Homo sapiens: one gene and its partners. The protein of the gene in region 2 interacts with the protein of the main gene of each other region in a biochemical or structural test. Each region holds a gene or a part of one and is shown on either strand. Other genes may lie near its edges.

Region 1 (3,750 bases), on a different chromosome or scaffold from region 2:
CTGGGAGATAGGCAGAACTCTGGACTGTAAAGAATGGCCCAGCAAAGAGGAAGAAAATGGGCATTCTAAGTTGGTGCAATAATATCAGCACAGGAGAAAAGACAGAATATTGGGGGGAGTGGGGAGGGAGGAAGAGGCTGTTGATGAGCCTGATATCATTAACAGAGACCTCATGTGAGGTGCCAGATTACAATTTATTGAATGTACTGAATGCATAAAGCATAAGACAGAAACCTGGAGCCATGCAGATACAGGGAACCCAGGACAAGTCATTATGATGCCTCAGACAATATAATTCGCAGATTCTCTATCAATAGCAAAGTAAGATTTAAGGTGCTGTGAAACAGTCAGATCCTTCAAGAAAAACAAGAATACAAGGGGTCCTGGAGACAGGAAAATATGATCATAATAATAAATTTGTGATTCCTTCTTTCTCTCTTTTTCTCTTTCTTTCTTTTTCTTTCTTTCTTTTTTTTTTTTGATGGAGTTTTGCTCTCGTTGCCCAGGCTGGAGTAAAATGGCATGATATCAGCTCACTGCAAACTCCACCTTCCAGGTTCAAGCAATTCTCTTGCCTCAATCTCTCGAGTAGGTGGGATTACAGGTGTCCACCACAACGCCCGGCTAATTTTTTATATTTTTAGTAGAGAAGGGTTTCACCATGTTGGCCAGGCTGGTCTTGAACTCCTGACCTCAGGTGATTCACCCGCCTTGGCCTCCCAAAGTACTGGGATTACAGGCGTGAGCCACTGCGCCTAGCCTCTGTGTGTTAAGTGCTGGAACTATAGTTTACAGTAGCATTTTATCCTCCCAACATACCCTATCAGGAAAAATTATTATTGTCATCCTTATTTCACAGATGTCAAAACTGAACAGAGAGGTACAGTAACTTGCCCAAGACAACACAGCTAGTAAGTGAAACTGAAATCTGGACAACTGATTTTTTTCAGCCAAGCTCTTCAAGCCCGCTGCTATGCTGCAGCTTAGCTGGCGACAGGCCCTTATCAAGGCAGAACTGTGCCTTGATAGAGGCCAGGAAGGCGATTCAGAGCAGTAGGCCTTGTCCATGTGTTTGTTCCCTGCTTCTTCACCACTTGAAAATAGTGTTTCAGTGCCCAGTAACAGGGCACAATACTCTTTTCCTCAGATTAAAAGGGGAGCCATCTGCTTAAGGTGGTTGGGTGCCACTGCACTGCACAGAAGGTTCTCCAAGTGTGAGCTTGGACCCAGGCAGGCCTCAGGTCAGTGGTAACGGACGACTGCTTCCGTGGTGTTGGCAGGTGGAAATGGAGGGATACAGCTTTGTCCGGCTCATGAATCCCTGGGCATTGTCCCGCCTGCTAGAGCCTCTGATCTCTGCCCCTTCTTCACCTGCAGTAAAACAGTCACTAGTTTGGTTGCTCTCCCTAATACCTCTGGTCACTGGGAGCTGTGATCTCACCAAACCCCTGCCAGGAAAAGCCCCAGAAAAAGCGGAGGGAGTGAGAGCCAGAGGCTGCTGCTGCCGTTTGCAAGAACTGCAGGGGAGGAGGACGCTGCCACCCACAGCCTCTAGAGCTCATTGCAGCTGGGACAGCCCGGAGTGTGGTTAGCAGCTCGGCAAGCGCTGCCCAGGTCCTGGGGTGGTGGCAGCCAGCGGGAGCAGGAAAGGAAGCATGTTCCCAGGCTGCCCACGCCTCTGGGTCCTGGTGGTCTTGGGCACCAGCTGGGTAGGCTGGGGGAGCCAAGGGACAGAAGCGGCACAGCTAAGGCAGTTCTACGTGGCTGCTCAGGGCATCAGTTGGAGCTACCGACCTGAGCCCACAAACTCAAGGTAACTCAGGTGTGGAGTCCGGGTGGGCTTCTCTAGAGAGGAAAATCTATTTCTTTTAGAGAACATTCCCTTTGCAATGTCATGGCTTTTTTTTTTTTTAACTTCAGGTAAGTAAATATAACTAATAGGAGAGTATACTGAATTAAATAAACTGGGCAAATGCTAATTTTGCATCCAACAATGTAGTTTATCATTCTGAGGGTTTAGAAAGCACCCTATTTGATTGGTTAGATGCTACCTTCTTTTCAAGTTTATTTTCAATACAGTTTTGTTAGTATGTTTGTGTTGGCTTATATATTGGTTAATTCAAAGGCACCAGGCACTTGCTCCCTCATTAGCCCTTCCTGCAAACTCCTGTTCCAGATTTTTAGTTGTATAGTATTTTTATGAGACTCCTAGTTACATATTATTTATTCCATTGTCTACATAGCTTCATCTTCTAAAACTAAAAATGAACACCTTGTGCTTTTTGTCATATAATTTTATTGCTGCCTTATAAATGACTTTCAAAATATCATCAGTTCTTGTATGTTTTTGTACTTTCACCTTTTTTCTGCTTCATATTTGACTTATTTATCCTATTGAATGTGACTCTTCATTTTTTTTTCTCTCTGTTCATCATGTCCTGGGATATGGTTTACCTTGGCTACTTAAAGGCATATGTAACTGAGAGGAGGTTTAATTCAGATAAAATACTATCCTTGAGTTGCAAACTATTTTTTCTAATTGAAATGTTAAAAATAAGACTTCTCAGAAATTAACTAAATCATACAGTCTATTCAATATTTCCAGTTAGTTATTTTTTAAATGGTAAACCTGCTAGTGTGACTCACTTTTTTTCCTTACATCACACTTCATTATGAAAGATGTGTTCCTCTTTTACAATTACAAAACCAAAGTAATCTGCCAAAAAATAATGTAATATTTTGAGATCTTTTAGTGTATAATATTAACCTTTTTAAAACTCTCATTGTAACTGGGTTATTTTGGAGGGTATTACATACCATCTTGGTCTTATAATAAGAAGAGATCCCTCCTTCTCAAAAATAATCATTTTAAATATCGTACTTCAAAGTGATAATCTAGGTCACACCCACACCCTTTGGGAACTGCCGTAAGCTAAAACCCCAAGGAAAATAACAGTCCTTCTAACACTAATCTTGCCTGCTCATGAGTAGAATGCAGACTTGGTTGTTGGCTTTCTTGTAGCATGCTGGGTTCATGCTTGGGAGTTTTTTCTCTTGTCTGTAGTTAGCGTTGAAAATAACAAGCAAAATACCGGAGGCAGAACCAGATAGGGCAAAGGTCTGATTCACATGGTGAGTACACAGGGAACCATGACTGGTCATTCTGTCCCCTCATCCTGTGGGTAAGTTTCCAAAGTTCTGGAGATTCGTTCCTCTGGTAGGAATTGTTGAGTCAAAACCATAGAAACACAACCCAGACAAACTGTCATATTGTTTAACCCTAAATCATATCATTTCTCTCTAGCATTTTCTTATGAAAAATCTAATCCATATATCTGGCTGCTTAAACTAAGAACTTGTTCTAACTTGTCCTGCCCCTAGAGCTATGATACTCACTAGGTGAATATCAACATAGCCAACTCCATCTTTTGGCAAAGTGTATTTTAGCACAAAGCAGACATCTATCTACTTATTTCATATAATATTAGCAGGACAATGCCTTTTAAAGGTAAAATGTATCTATTATTCTTGCTCCAAGTCTAAGGTGAACACTTTCAAAAATTTCCTTAGAAAACTTGTTTAGTCACTCACATGTATACAAAGAGATATTGAAGAAAAGATATACATACATTTTCCTTCTAGGGTTCTAGCTTTATATGATTTTGTGATTATGAACAAATCATCTTTAAACAATCCTTATAAATGAAAAACTCGTCGTACACATTGTTTGAATTCATATGATCTGTAACT
Region 2 (2,852 bases):
CCACTGCCTGGGGTGCTGGAGATGGGTGGGATGGACCCACTGCCTGGGGTGCTGGAGATGGGTGGGATGGACCCACTGCCCGGGGTGCTGGAGATGGGCTGGGTGGACCCACTGCCTGGGGTGTCGGGTACAGGCAGGTGGACCCATGGCCCAGCTCCCAGCCCAGCAGCCTGTTAGGAACCTTGTACAGGGGCCCTTGACAATTCTGCTTTTCTTCTGGAAGGTTTGGGAAGTATTCGCACGACGAGCTCTCCATCCTGGTGCCGCTACAGCAGTGCTGCAGGTACAGCCCCTGCCGGAGCCGGCTCCAGCTCCACCCTCCTCCCTACTGCGCAGGAGACAGAGGAGGCCACAGCCTTCCCCACCCCACCCCGGCCATCACATGGGAGAGAAAAGGCCCCGAATTCAACCACAGCCCTGAATTCAACCCACACCCTCACTCGGCGGCCTGGAGGCGCAGACCTCACCCGCCCACCACCCCAGGCCCATCCAGCTCGAGCCCCCTCGGGCCTCCACTCTGTGTCCGTCCTGCCACCCCAGTTACAGAGAGAGCTCGAGGCCAGGGCAGACGCCAGCTGAGACACAGGGACCCTGCTCCCGCACGCAGCTGCCGGTCTCTGCCACTGCCACCTTCTGCGGGGGTTCAGACCCCCTTTCCCCCGTTTCATGGCTGGGGACGCAGGCTTGCAGGGCAAACGCTTTGTACTTCTCTAAGGAGGCATCACAGCGCCCGTGTTGTGCGGATGTGCTGAGCTGGGGTCGGTCTCCTGGGTGAGTGGGCCGCCCTCCTCACCTCCCCATCCTCCTGGGTGAGCGGGCCGCCCTCCTCACCTCCCCATCCTCCTGCCGGGCCCCTCTGGGAAATACACCGGCCACCACATCCTGCAAGGGCACCCTCATCCCTTGTGCAGGTGAGAGGCGGCAGACCACGCCGAAGCAGGTCACACAGCCCGGAGGCTGATGAGGTGTTGGATCGCAGGCCCCTCTCTCGCGGTCTCTCTCGTCTCTGCCGTCTCTATCTGTGTCTGTCTCTGTCTCTCTCTCTGTCTCGGTCTGCCTGTTTCTCTTTATCTGTGTCTCTTTCTGTCTGTCTGTCTCTGTCTGTCTGCCTTTCTCTCTCCCTCTCTTTCTCTCTGTGTCTCTCTTTCTCTGTGTATGTCTCTGTCTTTTTCTCTCTGTCTCTGTCCCCCTCTTTCTCTCTCTGTCTCTCCCCCCACTCTCTCGATCTCCCTCTCACTTTCTCTCGCTTTCCCGTGGGCAGGCATCTCCCCTGTCCCGTGCCAGGCCTGATGCCCCTCTCCTCCCCAGGATCCGGAAGTCCACCTACCTGCGTCTGCAGCTCCTGGCCAAGGAGGAGTACAAGCTGAGCCTGCTGATGGCCGAGTCTCTGCGGGGGGACCAGGTGGCACCCGTGCTGTACCAGCCGCACCTGGAGGCCCTGGACCGGCGGCTCCGCGTCGTGCTAAAGGCCGTCCGGGACTGCGTGGAGAGGAACGGGCTCCACAGCGTGGTGGATGACGACCTGGACACTGAGCACAGAGCCGCCTCGGCGAGGTAGTGTCCGCCGGCCGCTGCGCTGCCCGGGACGGAGACAGAGGCGCCGGACCTCCCAGCAAGCGCATGCGCCCGTCGTGAATTCAGTGAATTCAGAGGCAGGACGGGATCATCCGGAGTCGGGAGCTGCTGCCACAGGAGGCGAGGCTCCCCAGGTCTCATAGGACACATTTTGTCAGTGTTTGACCAGAAAAGCTTGGGAAGGAAGCGCTGTCTGTGCTCACGGACAGAGGCGGCCGGCGCCGGAGGCATTCCATCCTTTCTGTAGGGAAAGGAGCCTTTATTTACTATTTTGTATTTATATTTGATGAATAAGTATATAAACAGAGACGTGTACACAGATGCCAATCACCTACCAAACCAAACACGAGGACCGCCCTCCCTGGTTCTGGGGGCCCCTCAAGGCCAAGCTCACCCCTCAAGTGCTCTCACACTCGGGACCTAATTCAAGTAAAAACCCTTTCTCCTTCCTGGGGCCTCGGCTCCTGGAGGGCTGGAGGGTCTCGTCTGAGGACGGGAGGAGGCTCTCGCTGGACGTCTGGCCTGTGCGCTGGTGGACGGATGCCTACGTGGTTTTGGAGGACCCGATGACCAGGCGTCCTGCGAGTCCGCCCGCTGGCCTGCAGCACCCACCTCGGACTTGGCTGTGGACGGTTGGTGCAAGTGCATCCTGCAGGGCTGGCTGTGCGCAGCTGTGGGCTGACCTTTGCAGAGTTTTGTGGAATAGTTTGCAATGTCATAAAAGTGCAATAAAGGTACAGCAGATGTGTGTCGGCCTCACGGGGCGGGTCCCTCACACCCTGGTGTGTGGCTGCCTGTCCACCCCCTCTCCAAAGAAAAACCAGTCCTGGAACCAGGCATGGCCAGGAGTCGGCATTCAAGGTGGCCTGGACCCGAGGCCTGCTGGGGTCGGAGGGGGCTGCCTGCCAAGCCCTGGTGCAAACAGGCCAGGTGGGGCCCCACCTCCAAGGCAGGGCGGTCCGTCCTGGGTTGCTCTCAGAGGCTGGGGCCGCGACCCAAAGCTGCGGCGGCCCCGAGGGCAGCCCCTGTCTGTAGCCCTGGCATGGGCAGCTTCCAGTGTTCCAGCAGGACTGGGCAGCCATGCGTGGGGCAGCTGCCCCGGGGCTGTGGTGAGTGAGGGGCACCGTGAAGGGTGCCAGCCCCTTCCCACTGCTGGCCTCGGGGCTGCAGAGATGGGGCTGGGCTCCCAGGCCAGCATCTCCCCTGCTGGCACCATGTGAGGGGCAGAGGCAGGAGCCAGCATGCTGGCTACCACCTGCCCAGCGTCACACGGCCCA
Region 3 (3,750 bases), on a different chromosome or scaffold from region 2:
GCTTCGGGGCTAATCCGAGGGCTGCGTGTCAAGCCCGCACATTGAGGCCTGCGGAGAACTGAGACCCCAGTCCCCGCAAGCCCAGCCTACGCAGGAGAGCGCTGCCCTCTAGCGACTATAATGGGACATGCAGCGCGGCCGGAGCCCCGCGGGAGCAGCGCCGCTGCAGGTCCTAGCGACTGTAGAAATCAGCCCTTTGCAGAGGGCGCAGAGGGCCTGGAAACCTCTGGGACCTTTTCCCAGGAACTGTTTATGGTTTCCCCCTAGGTCTAGGAGACATAGATGCATAGGTGGATTGGATACATCGATGGTAGCTATAAGGTAAGCAGACAATGGTCACAGATGGAAAGGTGGACGGACGGATGACGGATGGTTAGAAGATGTTTTGAGGGCTTGCTATAGTGCCAGGCACAAGGCTAAGAGATTTCGTCCACTATTTCATTTGATTCTCTCCAGAACCTTATGAATGGCATATTACCTCTGTTCCTATTTTTCAAATAGGGAAACTGAGGCCTCAGGCAATGTAAGCAGCTTGCCGCTTAGCAATCTTTTGCAGAGCCAGGAAGCGGGAAAGCGTGTCTTAATGGACAGTACCAGCCTCCACAGTGTGCCCTCGGCCCCCTCCCGGTGGAGAAGAGGTTCCAAGCCCCGGCGTCCCGGGTAGGGTGTCCCTCATCCCTCCCTCCCCACCACACTCCTGGCGCGCTGACATTACACCCGCCCCGGCACCCCCCTCTCACTGATCCAACACCCCCGGACACCCTGGACAGCGCTCTCAAGGCAGTAGGTCTTCGACTTGGGAGCCCCGGGGAGCTGGTTAAACACGGATCCTCTCCCACAGTGGCTGAAAAGCGCGCAGTCCCGGAACCTGAGGGTTTACCTGCTTCTACGCTTGGCCAAGGGTCTCTAACTGGAAAGGTGAAAATTCTGTCCTGAGATTTTAAGATTCCCAGAAACTTTCAATCGTTCAGTTCCTGTAACCATTAATTGAGCGCCTAAACTGCGCACCTTGACGCTGTTAGATGCTGCAGTAAGGAACTCGGAGTCAAGTGTGGGGGACAGGTTGGTCAATAAATGACGACATTCCGGACGGCTGTGCTTGGTGCCCACGGGGACCCGCGAGGGGGCCCAGGGAGGAGGCGGGAAAGGGGCAGGTTCACCGGCCCGCTGGGTCTCCAGCACATTCCAGAAGTCTAAGCCAGTCCATCTATCCTTCCAAACGCCCCCACCTCGCTTCCCTCCCTGGAGCCCGCATCCCACGGTGCAATTTCAGTGACTTTATGCGGAGAAACTTGATCCTATCTCACTCTCCCCAAACTTCCTAACTGCCTTGGGTTTGTCACCTGGCCGTGTGGGGAGCCACCGAGCGCCCCCTGTGGCCCCCACCCGAGCTCGGCGGGGGGAGCGGCGCGCGGGTGCTGGGGGACCGACCCCTCCCGCGAAGGCGTCGGCGCGGGGCTGGCGTAGGGCCTGCGTCAGCTGCAGCCCGCCGGCGATTGGGGCGCGCGCGCCTCCTTCGGTTTGGGGCTAATTATAAAGTGGCTCCAGCAGCCGTTAAGCCCCGGGACGGCGAGGCAGGCGCTCAGAGCCCCGCAGCCTGGCCCGTGACCCCGCAGAGACGCTGAGGACCGCGACGGTGAGGCCCTACGTCCGCCAGCACACCCGGGCCCGCTTCTCCCCGACGCCCGCCCTCCTCACACTTGCCTTCTTCTCTTCCCTCTAGAGTCGTGTCTGAACCCGGCTTTTCCAATTGGCCTGCTCCATCCGAACAGCGTCAACGTGAGTGAATTTGCCCGAAGCTTGTCTTTGCTGAGCGGGTTTGGGGACGTCTGCCCGCCCTCTTTCCCTTCACATTTCATTGCATGGGTTCCCCAACAGCGTTCCCTGGTTCTTCTTTGTGACCCCAGTCAATGTCCTGCCTCCCCCGGCTCCCGCTCTCTCGCCCCTGGTCTGCGGCGTTCTCTCCGGAATCTTGCCCTGGGCCGCGGACGCCCAGGAAAAGAGCCGGGTGCCCCAGGCAGCCTCGCGTTGGGGGCGACCGCGCCATCCCGGGAACCGCGAGGCGATCTGAGTCGCCTCCACGTCTACCTAAAAGCTGTCGGCCGGGAGGGCGGGGCCCCAGAAAGGAGCATTCCTGCGGGCTTTTGCTCGACGATCCCCTGCTGAGGCTGTCGCGGCGAGGGTCCTGCCGAGGGACCCCGTTCTGCGCCCAGGCAGGCTCGAAGCACGCGTCCCTCTCTCCTCGCAGTCCATGGCGCGGTTCCTGACACTTTGCACTTGGCTGCTGTTGCTCGGCCCCGGGCTCCTGGCGACCGTGCGGGCCGAATGCAGCCAGGATTGCGCGACGTGCAGCTACCGCCTAGTGCGCCCGGCCGACATCAACTTCCTGGTGAGTGTTGCGCGCGGCGAGTGTTGCGCACCTTGTGAGACAGAGTTTCCGCAACAGTACGCGGACTGCCTCCGGCCCACCGCGCGGCGCGTATGGCGGTTCGCACCGGGTCGGAGCCGCAGCGGCGCGAGCCCGTGGTGACCTGGGTGTCTCAGCTGTTCCTGGAACACTGACTGAAGTCCTGCCCTGGCTCTTAGCTTCGGGGATCCGCGACTATCTGGGGACCGGTAAGGGTAGCGGTGTCGCCGCACAAACCAAGTTTGTTTTAACCCTGGGAATTCGGGAACCCCGAGAAGTCCTCTGTTCAGCACCTCGGATAGCACTGGGTTCTCTCCTGGGCTGTCAGAAGGAAGATGGCTGTCACCACAACTCCTAACATATCCCAGCTAAGGGCCCCTCCACACGCAGTCATCTTCCCATCTTTCCCACAAATAATGTAATTTTTTGTTAGTGACATTTCGGTGCCTTTCTTTAGATTTATGTTCCCCAGCTCTCTTAACCTCAGGTCCCTCATTCCCTACCCTCACCTGTAAATAGGAGAGAGCAAAGGGATGGAAAAGGGGTACGGGGAGAGGAAGGCGAAATAACCGTAGACAGGAAAGAGTTCAAACTGTCTCACTAGCCAGTGATGCTGGAATTCAACTTCTGTTTCAACTGCCCTTTGTAATAGTAACTAAAACAACAGTTTAATTTGGCTATGAGAAAGGAACAAGAGAAGTGGCCAGTGTCCAATGGGTGACAACAGTCCAAAGATACACTGCACTACAGGGGGTTGGGGAAAGAAAAAGCTGAGGACAAAATAACTTTCATTCTGATCATGGTTCCCCATGGGCTGTCGAATCACCTCTGGTGCTCTACTGAGTCTGAATCTCCAACCTCGAGACTCAGGTAGCTTCACTTTTACCAGCTCCCCTGACAATTCCTTTGCATTGCTTTTGAAATTTGTTGAAATTTTATGGTGACTTAAAAAGCTCATAGAGAATAATGTATTCATCCAAGCTGCTTTGGGTTCCACCTGGAATTGAGGAAATTTTACCTTATGTAGATGTTTGAAATGGGGAGAAAACCAAGGAACAGTTTCCAAATATCTGTGGTATATATTTCAGGTTAAATGTTTGTTTCTTTGACCTGTGCTAACTTGGCATTAAAGAGAAGACACATAGGAAGGTTGTATATTTAAACTATGAGAAAAATGTTTCATCTTCAATAGGAGAAACAATCCCCTTCACCCATCTTTCTTCTTTCTCCTGTAGTCATGAGCTTTTAACCTATGCCTAAAAATTGAGCCAGTGCTACAAATATAAGGATAGATCTTGTGGATAAAGAATTTTAGACACAGAAGGAGGAAGAAAAATCCAAAA

The links.
Region 1: of the proteins of FAM20C (region 2) and F5, one has a biochemical effect on the other in vitro, tested with the Homo sapiens proteins (one large-scale study listed by IntAct).
Region 3: of the proteins of FAM20C (region 2) and PENK, one has a biochemical effect on the other in vitro, tested with the Homo sapiens proteins (one large-scale study listed by IntAct).

The regions. Positions count from the first base shown.
Region 1 is NC_000001.11:169,584,292-169,588,041, reverse strand, and holds the start of F5 (coagulation factor V preproprotein), read left to right. Parts: upstream 1-1,560; 5' UTR 1,561-1,655; coding exon 1,656-1,813; intron 1,814-3,750. UniProt on the Homo sapiens protein: Central regulator of hemostasis. It serves as a critical cofactor for the prothrombinase activity of factor Xa that results in the activation of prothrombin to thrombin.
Region 2 is NC_000007.14:258,423-261,274, forward strand, and holds the end of FAM20C (extracellular serine/threonine protein kinase FAM20C precursor), read left to right. Parts: intron 1-223; coding exon 224-283; intron 284-1,308; coding exon 1,309-1,558; 3' UTR 1,559-2,350; downstream 2,351-2,852. UniProt on the Homo sapiens protein: Golgi serine/threonine protein kinase that phosphorylates secretory pathway proteins within Ser-x-Glu/pSer motifs and plays a key role in biomineralization of bones and teeth.
Region 3 is NC_000008.11:56,444,455-56,448,204, reverse strand, and holds the start of PENK (proenkephalin-A preproprotein), read left to right. Parts: upstream 1-1,563; 5' UTR 1,564-1,636; intron 1,637-1,704; exon of another isoform or gene 1,705-1,723; 5' UTR 1,724-1,779; exon of another isoform or gene 1,780-2,248; 5' UTR 2,249-2,251; coding exon 2,252-2,389; exon of another isoform or gene 2,390-2,398; intron 2,399-3,750.